4 separate regions of the Homo sapiens genome follow, and all the other regions are reported to be linked to region 1. The links are microRNA targets in miRTarBase. Many come from high-throughput screens and were not tested one by one. Region 1 holds a microRNA gene; each other region holds the end of a gene's coding sequence.
Evidence for each region. The annotated mature microRNA hsa-miR-374c-3p reads CACUUAGCAGGUUGUAUUAUAU and lies in region 1 at 1,643-1,664, shown strand. An mRNA with a match to its seed (bases 2 to 7 or 8) in the 3' UTR can be bound and repressed. Matches are read on the target gene's strand: a 7mer-m8 pairs with bases 2 to 8, a 7mer-A1 pairs with bases 2 to 7 and ends in A, and an 8mer does both.

Region 1 (4,220 bases):
GAGACAGGGTTTCACCATGTTGGTCAGGCTGGTCTCGAACTCCTGACCTCAGGTGACCTGCCCACCTTGGCCTTCCAAAGTGCTGTGATTACAGGTGTGGGCCACCGCGCCCGGCCTTAGTTTGGATTCTTAAATCCATTTCTGTGTAACTCGTCTCTTGCTAGCTGTCCACCCCTCAATCAATCAAGGCAACCAAATACTGCTAGTGACAATGCCCCAAAACCACTTCATATTTTCCTGAGCTTCTAACCCAGTTTCAAACTCATTTCTTACTTTGATATACCATAAGCTCTCCTGTTAATGGTCTCACTCCAGCGTTTTGGCCTGAATATTCCTTAGGGACTCTGGTTCATATTTAGCCCTCTAGTATTTCTGTTCCAGCAGCTTTTGTCTTCATATTCCTGTTCCTGGTCAGCTTCCTCCCCATCATCCACCTCTACAATTACAAATCTTCACCACCCTTGCCAAGTCCTCTTCCTTACTCCTATCCCTATCTCTGTGCTCCAGCAAAGAGGTAGTTCCACTTACCTAAGGCTAACCCTCCACCTGCATGTGTTCTAGAGCCATAAATTTCACCCTTCCAGCTTCACCTGCATCATCTTTCAAGATCATCTTCCATCTATTATCATCTCTCTCTTTCTCACATCTACAATGACTCCCTTCTCAATTCCTTCTGCCCCATGGTCTGCAAACACACTCAATTTTTTTCTCATGTTAAATGATTCACTGTAAGGCGCTGGATAAGTGGTTTTAACTTGTATTCTGGTTGTCACATCTACAATCAGAAAAGCTTCTCACAAAATAATGATTAAGTACAATAAATAAGATAAAGAAAATATGAACCTGGTGAGAGGTGAACAGGACGGTGGAGGATTACCTGTCAGTGCAGGTAAGGGGATAGCTGGAGTAAAGTTGAAAGGGGAAAACTTTAAATATCAGCCACAGGAGCAAACCTCAGACTGTGAGGATGAGGTTTCTGTTCAGACAATGAGCACTCTGGTCCAACCCAGGGAGCAATTAGCAGCAATTACAGTAGCAGCAACAGCCATGCAACATCAGCAAGTAGCTAAGACCAAAATGCAGGCATAGAAATGAAGTATTTCATAGAAAACAGAGTAGCAAATATGACATATGAGGCACTTGTGCTGCTACTCCCCCTTCTCCGACCCTCAGCAGACATCACTAAATAGTTATAAATGTCTTTCACACTGAGATAAGACCTGGTTTCAGAATCTTGTTATAAAACATAATCAGGGCAGGCATTATCAATCAATTGGAGATGGTACTTGAGATGAAGTGTATTTGCTATCATTGCACTACACAGAAAAGTCCTCAACAAAAGAATTAGAAGACAGGAATAAGCTTCAGGAGTAAGCATTCTGAAGAGAGCTTGGACGTTGTTGGCAACTGGCGGGGACAAGCTGAGCCCATGGAGATCACAGAGCAGGCGCCCAATTAATGTCTGTTGATGATTCATTTTTTCATTCAACAAACATTTAATGAGGCCTACAATGTGCACCGGATTAGGCACTGTGAATACAAAGATGAGTAAGGCACTGTCCTTGCCCTTAAGGAATTTAAAGTCTGGTAGACGAGAGCCATAGACACGGACAATGATAATACAACCTGCTAAGTGCTAGGACACTTAGCAGGTTGTATTATATCCATCCGAGTAGGATTTCTTCAGAGGAGCACCACTCCAGGTTGCTGCTGGATCCATGAAGTCCTCCCAGGCACCAGGGTCTGCTGTTGTTTTTGTCACGTGCTGGGTGTCCCAAGATCTAACAATAATAGCTGTAATTAATGTATAGAGTGCCTATGACAAACACTTTACAAATATCTTCATGGAAACTCTGAAAATTAATAGTTATATTAGAGGAAGAAACTGAAGTTCAACAAGTTTAAGTCACACAGCCAGCAAGCAGTTGAATTAGGTTTCAAATCCAGTTTTGACAAAGTCTAATGCATTTTTCTGTTTTCAGGATAACCTTTATGCAGGTGTAATACAACAACTTTTCAACAGCTTTCTATTTGGAACTAAAAGCAAAGGCAATAGATTAGTCACTAGATCATGGAGTGATTAATTTGGTTTCCCACTCTACCTGGCAGAGAAATAAAAGGTGAAATGACCTCACACTTACATACCATTGAAAACCTTCAAGTCAGTTACTGTTTTTCTTTCTCAACCCTAACATCGTCACTGATCATTCAAAATATAAGTACCTCTAGTCAAATCTCTTCTTTTAATACTTGTCATAGTCAACACCATTATCAGCAACAACAGTTGACACAGCATTTAGCTGTATATTCCAGGCCTGTTCTAAGCAATTTACATAATTAGTCCCTTTAAGTACTTTTTACCCCCATCATTGAAAATAAATATTATTCCTATTTTACATAAGAGAAAACAGAGTCCTGGGGAAGTGAAGAATCATGCTCAAGACCACATTGCTAAGTGTGAGAGCAGATTTGAGCCCAGGCTACCTGGTCCCAAGACCCAAACTCTCACTTTACATAGCTCTGCTGCACTGCTCAGGGCCTCCTTTCCCAACTCTTGATGGCAAGTTACACAAGGCCCCCTGAAAAACCCAGTCCTACTTACATAAAATCTCATCACTAACCATTCTGGTCATAGAAAGCCATTCTCTAAATCCCAAATATCAATACTCAGAGCCTTAATTGGAAAATTTCCCGAAGAACATTGAGTTTAGAATATACCTTTGCAAAAAGAGAAAATAAACACTCGATATGTTTAGGTTTTTAATTATTGAATTTTTTTTTTACTTGCAGATATAGTCATAAACGTTTTAAGATCCATAAGCAAACTAAAGCAATTATGCCAATAATGACTAAGGCCACTGCTTCCTCAATTGAGTCTTTGATATAAAAGCCTTCACTTTTGGTTAATTACAAAAAAAAAAAAAAAAAAAAAAAAAAAAACCGTGGGAGATATGTGACAGTGAGAGTAGGCCTGCTACTGATGAGAAGGACCAGCAACTTAGCAACACCATAAAATGTCTGCTGCAATTCAGGTGTCTAGGTGTCTCCCTGAGAATCAACATTTCATATACAGCTGTTCCCAGAAAACAATCTTGCACAATCTGTACAGTCAAGTTATGATCTAAAAGGAGTTAATTGCAACATTCATCCAAAGAATATGACAGTATTTTTCATCAAGGTCTTTTTCTATAAGTTTTTCTATAACTTTTCCTATAAGTTCTATTATGTCTATACAGTCATGTGCTGCCTAACAATGTTTAGGACAATGATGAACCTCATATATGACAGTTGTCCCACAGTTGTCCCACCACAAAATCATATCATATTTTTACTGTAGCTTTTCTATGTTTATATATGTTTAGGTACACAAATACTTACCATTCTGTTATAATTGCCTACAGTATTCAGTACAGTCATATGCTGTACAGGTTTGTAGCCTAGGTGTGTAATAGGCTATACCATTTAGAGAGGTTTGTGTTAATATACTCTATGAAGTTCACATGACAAAATCGCCTAACAATACACTTCTCAGAACATATCCCCATTGCTAAGCAATGCATGACTAAATTTTTATAACTTCCTAAGAGGTTATCCCCTCTTCGCCACTCCCACTCCTTTCAGCCCTACATCATTTCTCATCTTAGCCACCACAGTATCCTTCTAACTCATCTCCCTGTCCAGATTTGAAAACATTCCTGAACACACCCCACACTACTGCCAGTGATCATCTAAAAGCATCCCTTTCTGAAAACACTTATAATGAAATCCAAATCCCATGGCATACCATATAAAGTTCTATTCCTGGCCTACATTTCCAACCTAATTTAGAGAACTATTTGTAGTTCCCCAAACTCATCATACTACTTCCAATGTCCATGCTTTTGCTTGGAAAGCCTTTCCCTGTTTTTCACCTAGTCAAAAGGTGACTTTACTTCTTTAAAGACTCAACTCATATACCAGGTACTCTGAGCTCTGTCATCTCCAGACTCTGTAAAATGATTTCTCTTTGAACTCCAGAGTATCTTATACATACCTCCATTGTAGAGCATACCATATTGTTGTAATTATATGTGTACATAGATGTTGATCTCTCTCACTAGACTGAGAACTCCTTGAGGACGGGGATGGTGTCTAATTCATCTCCATATCCCCACTACCCAGCACAGTGCCTGGCAGCTCAAATGACAGCAGAGAGGAGAGATGCTGAATATGCAGGAGTG
Region 2 (4,206 bases), not on the chromosome of region 1:
GCACCCATAATCCAGCTACTTGGGAGGCTGAAGCAGGAGAATTGCCTGAACCTAGGAGGCAGAGGTTGCAGTAAGCCAAGATTGCGCCACTGCACTCCAGCCTGGGCAACAGAGTGAGACTCTGCTTCAAAAAAAAAAAAAAAAAACATAAAAATACTTTAAGGGTCTTCCTCTGAAAGACTTTTTCCTTCTGTTTCCTTTTTTTTTCCTCTTTCACATTTTCTGTATTGAGCCAATATGACTACTGTAATGGAGGGGAACCCTTTATTTGTAGTTAGCTGGTGATAGGCTTTATTTTACAAGTTGGCCCCATTACCAGATGGCACATCTGACTATCATCTCATAGAGGCCTCAGCTGAAGGGCACAGAGAAGGTAGGGTGGGGTTCCCAGTGGAGCAGGTCCTGGGGTGGCTGCTCCTCTTTCATTCTTCTCTGTCTCTGTAGCTGAGGATCCTGTGGAGGAGACCATCGCAGCCCGCAGTCCACCGGGATCAGAGCTTCACTTACCAGTATAAGATACAGGACAAAAGCGTGTCCTTTTTTGCCAAAGGAATGTCTCCTGCTGTTCTGTGACCTGATTTCGGAGCAGCTGAAGCTACATAGGACTGTTTTTGGACGTGGAAGATAGAGCAACATAGCAAGAATGGGTCTTTCTCCTCTGTAGTAATATTTCAGGCTGGACCGGCGACTCCACTGTGACCAGAGGGTTGAGTGCTGCAGTGATGGCATGCCTTGGCTGCCCTGGGCCCTGTTCAGAAAACACAAGGGACCACAATCCTGCCTTTGCTGAGAGAGAGGCTGGATGCTAGACCCAAGTGAAAGGGGTCCTTTGGAGCCTTTGTTTAAATATGCCTTAGCCCCAGCTGCCCATTTTTGGTTGACAAGCCTTTCAGAGCCAGAGTGGGTATAGATGTGCCAGCCAGGAGATGGCACCGGATGGCAGGTGTGCAAGGTGACAACTAGGATAATCATGGCTGGAATAAAGTAAGTTTCCACACTGGAGCTTCCTGTGGGTTGTCTTGTTCAATTTCCATCCTGGAAAGGTACTTTCCCTTTCCCTATGAGTTCAGCGAGGAAACAGACCTAGAGAGGTTTGGAAGCACACAGGCTGCACAGCAGGCTGTAAGTAACTGTGCCTCACTCCACAGTCCACACTTGCTGACTGACAGTCATGGAACCCAGAGGCCAGCTCCCCACCCAAAGGTGGGGACCTTTGGCTTCTCCAGTTTCTGTGGTGCCTTGCCTTTATGCCAACAAATCCTAGCCATCAAGGGCCTGGCACCAGGGCCTTGGCCACATGAGGCCCTGTGTAGGCGCAGGTGTGTATGGTCTTGGTGAGAGGGGTAAGGGATGTTCTTGCTGCCAGGCGGATCAGGCCTTGGCGAGTTGCTGGTGCCTCCCTCACCTGTGAAGACTGCAGGAGGTGGGCTCTTGCCCCGCATCCTGTAGATGACAACTAGTCCCACTCAGCCCCTCAGTTGAGGTCACCTCAGAGTAGACACCAGGTGTATTCTCTTAAAATGGCTGCTTTTTTGGTATATAAATTATATTACAATGAATTTTATCTTAAAGAAAATGAAAAAATAATACTATTTTGCTGTATACTAAGGAACTTACATAGCTGTTATTTTCTTTTCTTTTCTTTTCTTTTTTTGAGACAGTCTTGCTCTGTCACCCAGGCTGGAGTGCAGTGGCCCGATCTCGGCTCACTGCAAGCTCCGCCTCCCGGGTTCATGCCATTCTCCTGCCTCAGCCTCCTAAGTAGCTGGGACTACAGGCACCTGCCACCATGCCCGGCTAATTTTTTGTATTTTTAGTAGAGACGGGGTTTCACCGTGCTAGCCAGGATGGTCTTGATCTCCTGACCTCATGATCCGCCTGCCTTGGCCTCCCAAAGTGCTAGGATTACAGGCATGTGAGCCACCATGCCTGGCCTTTTTTTTTTTTTTTTTTTTTTTTTTTTTGAGATGGAGTCTTGCTTTGTCACCCAGGCTGGAGTGCAGTGGTGGCATGATCTTGGCTCACCACAACCTCCGCCTCCCGGGTTCAAGCTATTCTCCTGCCTCACCCTCCCAAGTAGCTGGGATTACAGGCACGTGCCACTGTGCCCAGCTAATTTTTGTATTTTTAGTAGAGATGGGGTTTTGCCATATTGGCTAGGCTCGTCTTGAACTCCTGACCTCAGGTGATCTGCCTGCCTTGGCCTCCCAAAGTGCTGGGATTACAGGCATGAGTCACCATGCCCAGCCTCTTTTCTTTGTTTTGAGACATGGTCTCTCTCTGTTGCTCAGGCTGGACTGCAGTGGTGTGGTTATAGCTCACTGCAGCCTCGACTCTCTGGGCTCAAGGGCTCTTCCCACTTCAGTCTCCCAAGTAGCTGGGATTACAGGTGCGTGTCACCACGCCCAGCTCATATCTGTTGTTTAATTTTAACTTTTTGGATTTTTAGTCTTTAGGAAAAATTTATCACACTTCTCTTCAAATCATACCATTGTGTATGTTATCCGTCTGAAACAGTAAGCTGCTTTTATTCTCAAAATACTGTAGACCTGATAGAATATTTGAAAGTTATGAGTGCAATTAAGAGAAAGTAGTTATTAAAGAATCTAATGATTCTTTGACTAAGACTTCATTATTTATGCAAACTTCGTTTGAGCTACGATTTTGAATGGGCAAGGCACCATTTTTTACATGACATAAATGTTGCTATCATGTTTCTTCACTTAGTTTATAGATGTTTTCACTATTTTTTTTGAGACAGGTTCTCTCTGTTGCCTAGGCTGGAGTGCAGTGTGGCACTTCTTAGTTCACGTGAATTCCAAGTGATCCTCCCCTACCTCAGCATTCTGAGTAGCTGGTACTACAGGTGCCCACCACCATGCCTGGCTGTTTTTAATTTTTTTGTAGAAACGGGGTGTCACTTTGCTGCCCAGGGTAGTCTTGAACTCCTGGGCTCAAGAGATCCTCCCGTCTCAGCCTCCCCTTAAATATTTTATGTTTAATAGCTATTGAGGGCGGGGCACAGTGGCTCACGCCTGTAATCCCAGTACTTTGGGAAGCCAAGGCGGGTGGATCACCTGAGGTCAGGAGTTCAAGAGCAGCCTGGCCAATATGGTGAAACCCTATCTCTACTAAAAATACAAAAATTAGCTGGGCGTGGTGGTGGGCACCTGTAATCCCAGCTACTTGGGAGGCTGAGGCAGGAGAATCACTTGAACCCAGGAGGCGGAGGTTGCAGTGAGCCGAGAATGCACCATTGTGCTCTAGCCTGGGCAACAAGAGCAAAACTCAGTCTCAAAAAAAAAAGCTATTCAGCATTTTATGCTATCATTATATTCTAGTTTGTTTAGTTATCCTCTGGGCATGTAGATTCTGGTTTTTACAGTTATCAATTATGCTGTTATAAATTTTATATACTCTACCTATTGCGGGTGGGGATAAGTACTTGTTTGTTTAGAACCTGACAAACCAGGTCACTGGCAGAGCTCATAGAACTTACGTTCTGGAAGAGAAGACAGGCAATCAACAGAATCGACAAAGGACATATTTAACTTAGACCACAATAAGTGCTATAAATAAACCAGCACAGGGGCCTGTGAGAAGTGAGGGGTGATGACATTTTAGTCCATACCCTCTAATGGAATTATTGAATTACAGCAGAAACTGGCCCTGGCACATTATCAGGTTGTTCTTCAGAATGATGGAGCCAGTTGACAATGATGCAGAGATTTTGCTCTGTCAACTTTGGGTTTAACTTATTTTTAATTAATTTAATAGTGGTGGTTGTGTGAGAATGGACTAATACAGGGGTAGAAAAACAGGATCATAAGGTGTGATATGGTCCATAAAAATGATTCTAGTGTGAAATGGACATTTCTTTAATCACTAGCATATAATTTTCTCTGTATTTTTCCGTGTGTACAGAATCTGTTCCTTATCCTTGCTTACTTATCAATTAAAACCTGGTGTTGGTCGGGCATGGTGGCTCATGCCTGTAATCCCAGCACTTTGGGAGGCTGAGGCAGGCAGATCACTTGAGTCCAGGATTTTATTTTTATTTATTTATTTATTTTGAGACAGAGTCTTGCCCTGTTGCCCAGGCTGGAGTGCAGTGGCGCAATCTTGGCTCACTGCAACCTCCACCTCCCGGGTTCAAGCGATTCTTCTACTTCAGCCTCCCGAGTAGCTGGGACTACAGGTGCCTGC
Region 3 (4,000 bases), not on the chromosome of region 1:
ATTTTTCCCCCCTGGAGCTATTAGGGAAGAAACACTGTCTTTCCACAGGCTGGTAGGAAAAAGTCCAAAGCTGTTGGCAGTCGTATTGTCCCTATTAAACTAAAATGAACTCAGCAAGTTGGGGCTGAGACCTGGAAAGGGACACGTTCCCAAAAACCCTGCGCACCAGGATCCAGCTGCCTCTGAAGCTATCCCTGGAAGTTTCCGTCTTGTGAGGGTAAACTCTACTTTTTCTGCTCTATTTAGCCAGTTTTTGTAACTGGCTGATGAAGGAGTCTCTTGGTTGATAATACACCTTTTTTTTTTTTTTGATACGGAATCTCACTCTGTCGCCCAGGCTGGAGTGCAGTGGCATGATCTCGGCTCACTGCAACCTCCGCCTCCCGGATTCAAGCGATTCTCCTGCCTCAGCCTCCCGAGTAGCTGGGACTACAGGCGCCCGCCACCACGCCCGGCTAATTTTTTGTATTTTTAGTAGAGACTGGGTTTCACTGTGTTAGCCAGGATGGTCTCGCTAGCCTGACTTTATGATCCACCTGCCTCGGCCTCCCGAAGTGCTGGGATTACAGGCGTGAGCCACCGCGCCCGGCCACCAATCTCTTTTTAAACTGTGCTTTTGCGAGTGGAGCAGGGGCAGTCTTAGCTTTGGAGGAAGCTCTGGACAAGCCCATCATCCCAACAAAAACCATTTTGTCCTTCTTAGAGCTTAGGACCTGGGGGACGCCCAACAAAAATCAGTGGCCCTCTTGACCCCAAGGAGCACATTTAATGACAAGATTTTTCTTATTTTATTTTTTTACTTTAATAGGACCAACATTTTCAGTGCCTCATAGAGGGACATTTCTGGCCATAAATTAGTTCAGAGTGATGCCTCTCTAGCGCCACCTCTGGCCTCTCTGGGCTCTTCCCTGGGGACTGATGCTGGACTAGATGAGCTTATTTTGGTTACGGAAATCTCTGGAAGGTGGGGAACCCCAAGAAAACACAATTCACACACTGTGGTACACAGGCTTACTTAAAACCATTTTTATTCTGCCTCTGAGCAACACTTTTCATTTGATTTGGGTAAAAGACCAGGGACCCAAACACGCACAAACAAAAAACAGGATGTCAGAAACAGAAATCAGGGTCCAATCTATTGGAATGATGCTAGAATCTCTGTGTGCTGAGATTTCGTGTCCCTGATTCAACGTCCTCCTGGGACAAGTGCTGGCTCATCACAACATCCGGGTAAAATGACAGGTTGAATCTGATGTTCATCAGAATTTTTTTTTTTTTTGCTAGGGTTCAGTATATGAAAAAATGCTGAAATTTGTATTGGTATAGTACTTAGAATTCTCCCCGCCAATGGTTAGTCACAACTATTACAACAATTAATTCTCATAACAGCACTGTGAGGTAAGTAGGCAGGCATTCTTATCCCCATTTTGCAGGTGAAGGAATTTTAGGCACAGAGAGGCTATGAAACTTGCCTAAAATCAGCTTGCATAGCTAGTTAGTGGCCAATAAAAACCCTGCAAAAACAAAAGGGCGTTGGAACTAGGTATTGACTCTCAGCCTCTTATTCATTCAATTAGAATAATCTGCCTTTCTTTTTTCTTTTTCTTTCGTTTTCTTTTCTTTTTTTTTTGAGATGGAGTCTTGCTCTGTCACCCCGGGCTGGAGTGTAGTGGCACAGTCTCAGCTCACGGCAACCTCCGCCTTCTGGATTCAAGTGATTCTCCTGCCTCAGCCTCTCTATTAGCTGGGATTACAGGCATGCACCACCACGCCTGGCTAATTTTTGTATTTTTAGTAGAGATGGAGTTTCACCATGTTGGTCAGGCTGGTCTCAAACTCCTGACCTTAAGTGATCTCAGCCTCTCAAATTGCTGGGATTACAGGCGTGAGCCACCACGCCCGGCCAGCATAATCTGCCTTTCTTTTGCTTCATTATCACCATCTTTCTGACATTAATTCTTTGAAGTGACTTTTGCCACATATACTTATCTGGTGTGTTAATTACTTGATATTTTCTTGAGTTCTCTTGTTTTTCTTAATTTATTTGAACAGAAACAATATGTCACATCCCCCACTGTGGGAAGCTGTAAATGGAAGGTAATAAATAAAATAAATACCATGACACAAAACAATATCATTAAATTCTATCTAGACAGAAGACTCTGAGGCCTGCTCTTTCTTTGCTAAAAAGGGAAAAGAGCCATAGTGTCTGAAAGGTGTAAAGGACCTGCTAGCACTAAACAGAGACTTTTTCCTTGCTGTAATCAGGATGAAAAAAGAATAGAAAAGGGGAAACATTCTTTGTGATTTGGTATTACTTAATGTTGTTCCTAGAAACTACTTAAAAATTATCTTGTGTACCACCAGTGGCACACCCCTTGTGCTCTGTGAGACACTGGGTTACTGCGTTCTGGCAGGCAGAATAATGGCATCATTAAACCAGTACATTCACATCTAAAGGGTTTACATTTGACAGAAAAGAAACACAATGGGTGGCATTTCCAGGTGGCATCCAGGAAAATCAAAGATCTTGCCTGAGACTTGCTAGAGATAGGAGAGAGAGTGAGAAATTGAAAAAAAAAAAGCACATTCTATAAATACAGCCAGTTTATTCCCAAAACTGGGATACAGGAAGTGCTCATGTACCTAGAATTGGCCACTAAGTCCATTCTCAGAGCCTGTTTGAGTGAAGAGTGAGGTTTTGGTCAAGTTGACCAACGTGGATGCAAGCAAGGGAGGGGGCCTATTTGGAAATATAAGCATCAAGACAAAAGGCCAGAAAAGCCCCTTCTTTGAGTGTTTGATGACCAGATGGGTGAACTCTGGGCATGGGAGTGCTGACTCCCAGAGGAGGAGTTACTGAAGGTTATAAGAATAAAAGGAAAAGCAAATCCACAACTTGAACTCTACTAGACAATTTTAAACATGCTGCAAATGTTTGTGCTCAACATTGTAAATACCAGCACCTGCTGCTCTTCCTAGAAACCTCCATCTCCCCCTATATGGAGACCCCCTGGATCCCCTCAGTGAAAAGTTATGTGATTTCCTGAGGCTCGCCTCTGGAGGACAGGAGTGGACACAACGGGATTCGCTAAACTGAGACAGTGAGACTTCATTTTTCTTTTTTCTGTTTTCTTTTCATTTTTACAAATCAATGACTTTGGCTGATCCGGCTGTGCAGCTTGGATTGCCTAAATTTTGGACTTTTTTTTTTTTTTTTTCTTGTTCATTTGCCAGGGACCTGCCTCTGGAGAGTCCTGGAGGAAAAGATCTCACAGTCTGAAGTCAAGGATCCATTCCTTAGAAACTCCTTTGGGGTGTGTGTGGATGAGGTCCATCCTCCACGCTCACAGCCCACTGACCGCTGGTTCCTCAGGCACTGTGTGGTACAGACAGAGAGAGAGAGAGAAAGACCGTGGGCTGAGCTTCTGTGGTTGGCTTTCCCAGCTCGATGCCTTCCTTATTTGATGATGATGACTCTGGTTAAACACATGTTGAAATGTACCAGCCTGCGTGCACACTTTTGACTCTAAGCAGGGGCTTCCTTTTGAGAAACATATTCTATTTGTAAAACTTATTTTATCTTACATGTGGTACGTGCAAAAAAACAAAAGCAAAAACAGGCCAGGCATGGTGGCTCACGCCTGTAATCCCAGCACTTTGGGAGGCTGAGGCGGGTGGATCACGAGGTCAGGAGATAGAGACCATCCTGGCTAACATGGTGAAACTGCATCTCTACTAAAAATACAAAAAAAATTAGCCGGGCGTGGTGGCGGGTGCCTGTAGTCCCAGCTACTTGGGAGGCTGAGGCAGGAGAATGGCGTGAACCCGGGAGGCGGAGCTTGCAGTGAGCCGAGATTGTGCCACTGCACTCCAGCCTGGGCGACTGAGCAAGACTCCATCTCAAAAAACAAAACAAAACAACAACAACAAACAAAATGCGGATATGGAAAAATGCCTCTTGAGCATTTCCGAACCTCACTCTCCTCCCCAAGGATTA
Region 4 (4,197 bases), not on the chromosome of region 1:
GATGTACTGTTTCCTGTCCCCGAAACACCTGCCTTCATCATCCCGCTAGGTCTTGTTCCTACCAATCTCCCATTCAAACCCCTGTTTTTCCACAAAAGCCCATCTCACATATTACCACCTCTGTAAATCCTTTTCTAACTTATTCAGGGTGACCGAATTCTGTGTTTCTGTGCCCCCTTAATACTTGTTATATAAGTCTCCTTCCCCAACCACCCCCACACTTACCACATCACGTTAGCAAGAATGAGAGCAATTTGAGGGCAGTGGCTTTGTATCTTATTTATAGCCCTGGCACCAAAACAGTTTGTTGAATGAATTTGATAAAATCAGACGTATAGGGCTGGGCACAGTGGCTCACGCCTGTAATCCCAGCACTTTGGGAGGCCGAGGTAGGCGGATCACGAGGTCAGGAGATCGAGACCATCTTGGCTACCATGGTGAAACCCCATCTCTACTAAAAATACAAAAAATTAGCCGGGTATGGTGGCGGGTGCCTGTAGTCCCAGCTACTCAGGAGGCAGAGGCAGGAGAATGGCATGAACCCGGGAGGCAGAGCTTGCAGTGAGCCGAGATCACGCCACTGCACTCCAGCCTGGGCGACAGAGCAAGACTCTGTCTCAAAAAAAAAAAAAAAAATCAGACATATAATGGTTACATAGTAAACACTGGTAACTTTTTAAAAGTCACATGTGTATTCAGTACTTGAAAGTTAAGGTTGTTGGGAATATGGTGGTTAATAGCACAGTTGAACATAATGGAAGAATTCACTACCTTAGAATGATCAGTTTCTGTTTTGATACATTTCGTACCAAAATTTCTTCTACAACTCATCAATTATTCTTCGTTGTTTGTTTCACACCATTCTCGAAATCTCACATACTCTTTTCTCAAATTCAGGGAGTCATGTGATATTTCTTGTTTTATTCACAGAGGGCTGGTTTTTAAGTTTGGCCGCACTGAAGACTTATGGCAGTGAACACATCTGATTTCCCACAGCACAACAGCCCTGCATGGGTTTGTTTGTTTTTTTACTGCTCACTCCCAACCTTTTGTAATGCCATTTTCTAAACTTATTTCTGAGTGTAGTCTCAGCTTAAAGTTGTGTAATACTAAAATCACGAGAACACCTAAACAACAACCAAAAATCTATTGTGGTATGCACTTGATTAACTTATAAAATGTTAGAGGAAACTTTCACATGAATAATTTTTGTCAAATTTTATCATGGTATAATTTGTAAAAATAAAAAGAAATTACAAAAGAAATTATGGATTTGTCAATGTAAGTATTTGTCATATCTGAGGTCCAAAACCACAATGAAAGTGCTCTGAAGATTTAATGTGTTTATTCAAATGTGGTCTCTTCTGTGTCAAATGTTAAATGAAATATAAACATTTTTTAGTTTTTAAAATATTCCGTGGTCAAAATTCTTCCTCACTATAATTGGTATTTACTTTTACCAAAAATTCTGTGAACATGTAATGTAACTGGCTTTTGAGGGTCTCCCAAGGGGTGAGTGGACGTGTTGGAAGAGAGAAGCACCATGGTCCAGCCACCAGGCTCCCTGTGTCCCTTCCATGGGAAGGTCTTCCGCTGTGCCTCTCATTCCAAGGGCAGGAAGATGTGACTCAGCCATGACACGTGGTTCTGGTGGGATGCACAGTCACTCCACATCCACCATTGAAGGAAAGGAAAAAAGGGCAGAGACTTGACACTCCAGTCTTAGACAGGGGACAATTTCTTTGTAGTTGTTCTGATAATAAACTGGGTTCCATGTTGCATTTCATCTGTGTACTGAACCACTAGCCTAATAGACCAGCACGGTCAACTAGAATGACAAACATTAGCTACTGGGAACTCTTGTTGTCTCTTCCTCTTCAGAACTCTTGTCCCCCCAGGCTCCCCACCTCTGCAAGATGGGATACACTCTTCAGGACCACAGTTTGAAATGTCTTTCATAAAATGTGCTACAATTAGCCTTCGGAATATTTGCTGGGTGATTTAAATGTGTGGGTCTCATTTCCATGCTAGCCATGGTCATCTGACAGTCTCTACACTGTGAATATTGCCTGGTGATCAAGACTCTCCTCAAAGAAATGACTTGCTGTCATCCCACATGAACTCCTGATGTTTTTTCTACAAAAGTCCATAAAATGTGAAAACTGGAGAAGATCTTAGAGGTTGAAGCCCACCTTCTCTTTTCACATAGGAGGGAACAGACCATGGAAATTTAAACGACTTCCTCACGGTCACAGAACTAGTTTTTTAATCCTCAGGCAGTGCATCCCCCCACCCTACAACTGAGCACAACCTCTTTCCCCACAGTGCAATTCAGAATATGCTCAGGGAATGCCAGCCACCTTGTAAAACTGCTGGGAGAAAAGCATGATTCCCACAAGGACTAAGTATCAGTGATTTGTAATTTTCCTGTTTTGTATTATCTGCTTTGCTGATGTAGACAAGAGTTAACTGAGTAGCATGCTTTATTAAGCATGAGAAAGAATCTTAAGAATTGTCAATAAAATTAACCCAAAACTTTAATAATGTGTCTGTAACCAAGAAAATATTGATAGCATCATCCTAATGAAACTAAACATTTATTTTAAACTTATTAAATTGACTCTTAAACTAAGTTTTTAGTCTTTAATTTTTTAATATCAAATCTGTCTCTGACCTTGTTTCATTATACATAAGGAGACTTTGCTGTCATGAGCGTTTCTCACGTACAAATGCAGGCAACAGTGAGAGGAAGTTGTCTTGTTTTTGAACAGGCCTTGTTTTTCTTGGATGCTTTTGCTTAAAATCCAACAGCCAAATGAGGAAACTGTAAAAGCAAAACAAACATTTTTATTGCAGATGAACCCACATACTGATTTTGGCTTGATCTCTTGAAACAGCCTAAATGTCTCATTACAAAGACCTTAGAAATTCTTTCATAAAATCTGAATTGGAAGAGATCTTGGATATATAGGTTTTATTTCATCTAACGTTTTACATGGATTGTTGATAAATGGCCATCTGGCTTTTATTTGAATGCCTCCAAAGACAGAGGACTCACTACTGCCATATGAAGTAGCTCATTCCATTTGGCAGACAGTTGAGATTGTTAGAAATTTATACTGCACCTCCCCTGGGCCTAGTTAAATTCTTTGGAGAAGTGTAGAGAAAAAGTATTTTTCTTCTACATGCCAGTTTTTTTTTTGGTTTTGTTTGGTTGGTTGTTTGTTTTGTTTGAGATGGAGTTTCGCTCTTGTCTCAGGCTGGAGTGCAGTGATGCAATCTCAGCTCACTGCAACCTCTGCCTCCCGGGTTCAAGCAATTCTGCCTCAACCACCGGAGTAGCTGGGATTACAGGCACCCGCCACCATGCCCAGCTAATGTTTGTATTTTTTAGTAGAGACGGGGTTTCACCTTGTTGGTCAGGCTGGTATCAAACTCCCAAACTCAGGTGATCCACCCGCCTCGACCTCCAAAACTGCTGGGATTACAGGCGTGAGTCACTGCGCCCGGCCTACATGCCGGTCTTTCAAGTGTTCGAAGAGCCTTCTTAGGTCTCCTCTGGCCTTCTCTTCTGCAAGCTGTGCATGCGCTGAGTTCTGAAGTGGTGCCACACCACAGCCTACCATACAACGTCACTGCATGTGGCATAAACTGGGACCACAGAACTCTGAAACCGGAAATCAGGGTAGCTAACACTTGTTTGCTAACATTTCACATACATTATCTCCTTTAAACCCTAACAACACAGTGAGACAGTTACTGTTATCTCCATGTCAGATGACGAGACTGAAGCTACAAGATCACAGAGCTGGCAGTGGTAGAACCCAGATCTGTCTGACTCCAGAGCACAAACTCTTAGAACATGGGATTTGATCTCATTTTATAGAGGAAGAAACTGAGCCCCAGAGAAGCGACCTGCCCAAGGGCACCAGCCTGCCAGTGGGTGAACTAGGACTAGAATTCAGATCTGCCTCCCAGAACACTGGCCCTCACCGAGGCTAGGGGAGTCTGTTGGCAGGCTGCTGATGTGTTTTCCTAGTTTACTTTTTTTTTTCTTTTTTTTAATATATATATTTTTTGAGACAGAGTCTCCTCACTCTGTTGCCCAGGCTGGAGTGTAGTGGCAAGATCTCAGCTCACTGCAACCTCCCCCCAGGGGTTCAAGTAATTCTGCCTCAGCTTCCCAAGTAGCTGGGA

Region 2: miRTarBase lists ELP6 as a target of hsa-miR-374c-3p. The part of its 3' UTR that is shown has no 7-base or 8-base seed match.
Region 3: the mRNA of TMEM233 is a reported target of hsa-miR-374c-3p. Seed matches in the 3' UTR shown: 7mer-A1 at 1,327-1,333.
Region 4: miRTarBase lists TMEM50A as a target of hsa-miR-374c-3p. Seed matches in the 3' UTR shown: 7mer-A1 at 2,402-2,408.

What each region holds. Positions count from the first base shown.
Region 1 is chrX:74,216,945-74,221,164 of GRCh38, forward strand. MIR374C (microRNA 374c) reads left to right here and starts at 1,605; the gene lies at 1,605-1,674. The region is part of intron 5 of FTX (FTX transcript, XIST regulator); the gene reads right to left. It overlaps MIR421 (microRNA 421), which reads right to left and starts at 1,517; the gene lies at 1,433-1,517. It overlaps MIR374B (microRNA 374b), which reads right to left and starts at 1,674; the gene lies at 1,603-1,674.
Region 2 is chr3:47,492,436-47,496,641 of GRCh38, reverse strand. ELP6 (elongator acetyltransferase complex subunit 6) reads left to right here. Exons shown (of 7, transcript NM_001031703.3): 7 at 445-1,002. The coding sequence ends at 573. Among named protein-coding and RNA genes, the nearest start is that of SCAP, 19 kb to the right of the region's middle.
Region 3 is chr12:119,640,078-119,644,077 of GRCh38, reverse strand. TMEM233 (transmembrane protein 233) reads right to left here. Exons shown (of 3, transcript NM_001136534.3): 3 at 1,003-3,379. The coding sequence ends at 3,373. The region is part of intron 1 of PRKAB1-AS1 (PRKAB1, TMEM233 and CCDC60 antisense RNA 1); the gene reads left to right. Among named protein-coding and RNA genes, the nearest start is that of PRKAB1-AS1, 26 kb to the left of the region's middle.
Region 4 is chr1:25,359,730-25,363,926 of GRCh38, forward strand. TMEM50A (transmembrane protein 50A) reads left to right here. Exons shown (of 7, transcript NM_014313.4): 7 at 931-2,632. The coding sequence ends at 976. It overlaps RHCE (Rh blood group CcEe antigens), which reads right to left. Exons shown (of 10, transcript NM_020485.8): 10 at 2,520-2,824. The coding sequence ends at 2,798. Among named protein-coding and RNA genes, the nearest start is that of TMEM50A, 23 kb to the left of the region's middle.